Linked DNA regions of Homo sapiens. The protein of the gene in region 1 purifies or fractionates together with the protein of each later gene. This does not show direct contact. Each region holds a gene or a part of one and is shown in the gene's direction. Other genes may lie near its edges.

What was found.
Region 2: the proteins of OR52N5 (region 1) and CD226 purify together in Homo sapiens (affinity purification with mass spectrometry; one large-scale study listed by BioGRID and IntAct). This does not show direct contact.

Annotation. Positions count from the first base shown.
Region 1 is NC_000011.10:5,775,471-5,778,152, reverse strand, and holds the end of OR52N5 (olfactory receptor 52N5), read left to right. Parts: coding exon 1-493; 3' UTR 494-1,988; downstream 1,989-2,682. UniProt on the Homo sapiens protein: Odorant receptor.
Region 2 is NC_000018.10:69,941,336-69,945,171, reverse strand, and holds part of CD226 (CD226 antigen isoform a precursor), read left to right. Parts: intron 1-3,836.

The DNA of each region.
Region 1 (2,682 bases):
TGTATTGCTGATGATTCCTTTCCCATTCTTGGTTAAGCGTTTGCCTTTCTGCCAAAGCAATATTATCTCCCATACGTACTGCGACCACATGTCTGTAGTAAAGCTATCTTGTGCCAGCATCAAGGTCAATGTAATCTATGGTCTAATGGTTGCTCTCCTGATTGGAGTGTTTGACATTTGTTGTATATCTTTGTCTTACACTTTGATCCTCAAGGCAGCGATCAGCCTCTCTTCATCAGATGCTCGGCAGAAGGCTTTCAGCACCTGCACTGCCCATATATCTGCCATCATCATCACCTATGTTCCAGCATTCTTCACTTTCTTTGCCCACCGTTTTGGGGGACACACAATTCCCCCTTCTCTTCACATCATTGTGGCTAATCTTTATCTTCTTCTTCCCCCAACTCTAAACCCTATTGTTTATGGAGTAAAGACAAAACAGATACGCAAGAGTGTCATAAAGTTCTTCCAGGGTGATAAGGGTGCAGGTTGATTCAAGGCAACTTAATTCAGATGGAAGAAAGATAAATGAAAAATAACAAAGAATAAACTTACGTGTGATATTTTACATTTATTCATGTGTAGTATCATACATTTTCTCTCTCAGTCTATGTTTTCTGAAACTGTTTTGGGGAAATTTATAGCCCATTCTGGATGTATATCTCAGTGCCTTTCCCTTAATTTTTGTCTATTGCCAGTTTTTAAAAAATGAGTTTAACTCAATTTATTTAAATTGACACATAAAGTTAAATATGTCATATATAACATAATGTTTTAAATATATATAAACCTTACAGAATGGCTAAAACTAGTTCAATTCATAGAAGTAAAAAGTAGAATGGTGTTTTTTTAAAAATCACGTGTTATTTTTCTAAATTTTTTAAATTGATACATAATAGTTTTACACATTTGGGAGGTGCAAATGATATTTTGATACATGCATAAAATGTGTAATAATTCAATCAAGGTAATTAGAATATCCATCACCTCAAACATTTATCTTTTCTTTTTATTGGAAACATTCAAATTCTCTTTGAGCCATGTTGAAACACGTAATAAATTATTGTTAACTACAGTTATCCACTGTACTATTGAACACTATGTCTTATTCTTTTTAACTGTATTTTAGTACCTATTAATTAACCTCTTTTCATCCTCTCTTCCTCCCACCATTCCCAGCATCTGGTAACCACCAGTCTACTCTCTATCTCCTTGAGATCCACCTTTTTAGCTCCCACATATAAATGAGAACAACAATATATATCCAAAAAAAGAAAAACAATATGTTGAAGAGATACCAGATACCTGCACTCCCATGTTTGTTGCAACATTGTTCACAATAGCCAAGACATGAAATCAACCTGTGTCCATCAACAGAGAAGTGGATAAAGAAAATGTGGCATCATAAAAAATGATGAAATTCTGTAATTTGCAGCATCATGGATGAAGCTGGAAATTAGCATGTTAAATGAAATAAGCCAGCCACAGAAAGACAAAAGTTACATTGCCCGTTTTAATCAAGTCGTTGGTATGAATTCACACAACTTTTATCTAATATATTCATCTTGGATATATTCTTAAACTTTGAAAGAGTCCTTAAGTGTCTTGTCTATGTTGATAATCTTTCCTATAGAACATTTTCCAGCCCAGTCAGTCTTTGAAGCTAAAATTAGGTTTATGAATTAATTTTGAGAAATATTTTTATGTATATATTAGAATGGACAGACAAGTCTTATTTACCTCAAGGCTTGCGTACACCAGAAGTCAGTGCAGGAGCTAGTTGGTATATGGTATGGCTTTCCCAGTTAAATGTCAACCAATTGGTGAAATGATTGATTAAATCATTGATTCACTGATTCATTCATTCATGCTTCATTTGTTAGTTATTTCATTTCCCATATTTCTGAATATTTTTATCAACTCAGCTAAATCTTAAAATAGAACTTATCATTACCTCTTCCTGGTTGTCACACACACTATATTATCACAACACTCTTATAATAAGTTTATTTGTTTACACATCTGTTCATTGTATACTACAACATGTTGTATTTGAAAGCACTAGGTATGTATTTGTCTTTGTATTTCAGGCTCTGACAAAATGCAACTCAAAGGTATAAATAAAACAAATATTCATTAAATGACTAGATGAATGAGTCTACATTAGTTAGGCCTTATGTTAGATATTAACCATTAGAAAAATATAAACATTCTCCTTGTTACAAAGAAGCCCACAGTCTAGCTAAGGGGTGAAATATTAATAAAAATGTGTTGAATTCAGTGCTATGCTAATCATCTTAACGGAAAGCAGGGTGATAGAGTCAAATAGTCTATTCAAACTAAAAAAGAAAAGGAGTGATCATGTTAACTGGAACATTTTAGTAGGAGATGAATAAAAGAGTAAATGAAAATTTAATCTCTCAAGTAAACATATACATTCAATTAAACTATAGTTTAGAGGAGCTTTATAAGAGAGTTTGCACAAGTGCTGAAACAGCACAGAAAATGATCCTCTAACCTTGAGAGAGTAAGAGAGTCACAGAGAGATGGTATTTAAACCAGAATATAAATCATGAAAAAAAAACCCTATTTACTAGGGAGACAAAGAGTTCTGTTTTTTTCTTCACCAAGGCTATTTCTTGCCTGGTGGTATAATTCCTTCCAGCTAAATGTATTCCATTT
Region 2 (3,836 bases), on another chromosome or scaffold:
TTCAGATATTAGTGACAATCTAAAGCAGGGAATATTTTTGGAACTGTGTGTTTCTTGTGTGGTGTCTCTCAAATTATACTCATGGCTGTACAGAGAAGAACATTTTATGACATCTGACATAATAGTGCTTTATTTTTAAGGGATCTGTGCTCTAAAAGAACAAGTACAGAATTATATGAGGAATATCAAATGGTCAGGAGATAAGAAACATCTTCATATATTTAGTTTTCCCTTTCTCTTTAGGTGTAGCTAGGGTGAAGACTAATTTTGTGTATATAGCTGAGGCTTATAGAGTGTCAATTTACAATGTTTCTTTAGTTAAATGTTTATTTATTAAAGACTCTGTTTCACCATACAAGTCCTCATTTGCTGTTGTATGTAGACACCTGTTAAATCCTGCTTGGAAGTTTTTACTGTGTAGTTTGCTATAAATCAGTCAGGCAGGCGAAGTAGAAGATTGGCAAAGCTTTTAACATAGACTGAGCCATTGGAAACAAGGCCTGAGCCACCAAAGCTAGAACAGGATGCACTCCCCACTGCTGCCTTGTGTGGTATGCCTTTAAAGTTTGGGTTCCAAATTAGCTGTTTTGGTTTCTGTCACAGGACAACCAATTGAAAACAGCTCAACCTTTCAGGATAGAGGATGGAGCTAACCTGTAGAGAACTAAATGATGGTTGTTATGCAAAGGTAGGATTTTTAACATCACATATGAATAGTCTTCGGAATATTTCCTGTTGTTTTCATCCAGATTTGTCATTACTGCTAGTTTTTGAGGTTAGGAAAAGAGAGCTGTCACCTTCATGGGGCTTAAAAAAATACAATGTGGAGATTTTCAGTCAGTTTTCAGTCAGAGGAAGGAATACCGGCTGTCCGTCTAGTTTGAATTCTTCATGATGGTATCCTTAGCCATGATCCATTGCTCTTGTTTTGATTATTTGTATTTTAAAGAGCAGATTGATGCAATGGGCTAGTGAGGGCATTCTACCCTATTTTGAGAGTTTGAGAGCTTCACTTTTTTAAACTAAGAATGATAGTGAGTTTAAAAAATATTAGTTGTATTTCAAAATTAACCTTAGGTGTGCTTGAAATTTTCTTATGTACTTCAGTAACAACATACTGGGATTGCAAATATTGTACTTTTGTATACTGTAAAGGGGGAGTTGAAAATACATTAAATAGTAAAAAAAAAAAAAAAAAGACTTGGAATCTAGAAATCCTAGTTTGTATAATGGATTGTAAGAACTTCAGAAGGATGAAGGAGTTGGGCCCTATGCTCTGTAAATATGTTGATTTTTTGCTATTTATTGATAGCTTATTATGTGCGGAATTTTACATAGTCTGGATCTTCATAGACTTCCTCCTTGAATCTCCTGTGTGCACTTGAACGTTTGTATTGCCTGATTTTACAGATGATGACATTGAAGTGCAGTGAGGTCTAGTAGTCTTTCCAAGGCCCTAAGTTTCACGTATGTCCCAGCAGATAAAGTTGCAAATTGATGTAACTGTCAGCCTGGGGGACATGGGAACCCACCAGGGCCCTTGAAGAAGGAGACCTTGGCCTTTGTACCTCCTATCAATGCTACCCCTCTCCAGCTTTCAGCCTAGAGTTTAAGAGCAAACAGGACATCTTATTCTGAATAAATGGTACTACTAATACAAAGTTATTTGAAAATATGTGTTCTTTCCAGAACAGGCATTTCTTCATTAGCAATTGATTTAGAGACTCTGATGGTAAGAATAAATGCATTTGTTTTTACCTAGTTTGTGAGAAAATATGCAGAGATGACTTGGGGGACCACATTTTCCAGATAGCCCTTTCTAGCAGAGTTTGTGAGGTCATGGAGAAAACTACTGTCACCTACGTGTCTCTGGCTTTATTAGTCAGTTAAAGCAAATATAGTTGCATTTACAGAAATACCCCCAAAATGAGTGACCCACTCAGAATGCTCTGCCACCTAGTGTTTACTGGGTGCCTGCTCTGTAGGATGCAACTGCGTGTCATTTCATTTAATCCTTATGAAGCACTATGGGGAGGTAATATGTTCCCGTAATACAACAGAAGACACTGAGGTTCAGGGTGGTAGACTCACTTGTCCAAGGTTATCAAGCTGCCAAGTGGCAGCACCAGAATGACCCCAGTTGATTTTTCTGAAGAGCCAGAGATCTTAACTCCAGTGGAATGAACCAGGGAGGGCCATGGTAGAGAAAAGTCGTGCTGGACCTTGAAGAATTGGAAGGAATATTTTAATTAGAGAGGCCGGGGTCTGGGGAAGAGAGAAGACAGAGAGGGAAGGGTGTCCTGGGGGTACTGATGGCTTAAAGAAGGGCACAGTGGAGGTGTAAAGTTCATGTAAGAGGCAGAGCCTGGCCTTCTCTGACTAGGGCACTGGATTTGGATAAGATGTGGTTCTCACCCTGGGCTCTGAGGCCCCCTACACCCACAGAGGTGGCCTGAGAGGCAGCCTCCCAGGAAAGGAAGACACTGTGAGAGTGAGACTCTCTCCCTGCATGCACCAGCAAAGGGGCTCAGCTTATGATACTTTAGAGTTTCAGGAAAAGCTTTAGTACAGTAGATTCTGTGCTTGAAAAAGGAGTTGCAGCTCACTAGGGCAGCAGAATGTCAGAAATAAACCCGAAAAGTTATTGATGTGCCTAATGGAATTTTGACTTCTGTCTGTAATGCAGACCAGGGGACATCTCTGACTAGTTTTTAGAGAGACACACAAAATAAAACCAGATTTTTCTTTCACCACCTAAAAGATTACACTAGCTGCAGTCTTTTAGGAGAGTAAGAGTTTGCAGGCAAGGTAAGCAAATAGGCATCTGTAGATTGGAACCTTTACACACTGCTAGCAGGAGGATTAATTGGTATCTCTATTATTTTAGTCAGGCTTCTCCAGAGAAAGAGAACCAATGTGTATATACATGGAGATTTATTATAAGAAATTGGCTCACATGATGTATTAGTCTATTCTCACACTGCTGTGAAGAAATACTTAAGACTGGGTAATTTATAAGGGAAAGAGGTTTAATTGACTCACAGTTCAGTATGGCTGGGGAGGCCTCAGGAAACGTACAATCATGGTGAAAAGGGGAGCAAACATGTCCTTCTTCACATGGCAGCAGGAAGGAGAAGTGCAGAGTGAGGTGGGGGAAAAGCCCCTTATAAAACCATCAGATTTTGTGAGAATTCACTCACTGTCACCAGAACAGCATGAAGGTGACTGGCCCCATGATTCAGCTACCTCCCACCGGGTCCTTCCCACAATACATGGGGATTATGGGAACTACAAGATGAGATTTGGGTGGGGAAACAGCCAAATTATATCATTTTGCCCCTGGCCCCTCTGAAATCTCATGCCCTCACATTTCAAAATACAACCATACCCTCCCAACAGTCCCCCAAAGTCTTAACTCTTTCCAGCATTAACTGAAAGTCCACAGCCCAAAGTCTCATCTGAGACAAGGCAAGTACCTTCCGCCTATGAGCCTGTAAAATCAAAAGCAAGTTAGTTACTTCCTAGATAAAAGAGGGGTACAGGCATTGGATAAATACACCAATTCTAAATGAGAGAAATTGGCCAAAACAAAGGGGCTACTAGCTCCATGCAAGTCTGAAATCCTGTAGGGCAGTCATTAAAACTTCAAGTTCCAAAAATGATCTCCTTTGACTCCATGTCCCACATCCTGGGCATGCTGATGCAAGAGGTGGGCACCCATGGTCTTGGGCAGCTCCACCCCTCTGGCTATGCAGGGTACAGCCTCCCCTCTTGGCTGCTTTCACAGGCTGGTGTTGAGTGTCTGTGGCTTCTCCAGTTGCATGGTGCAAGCCGTC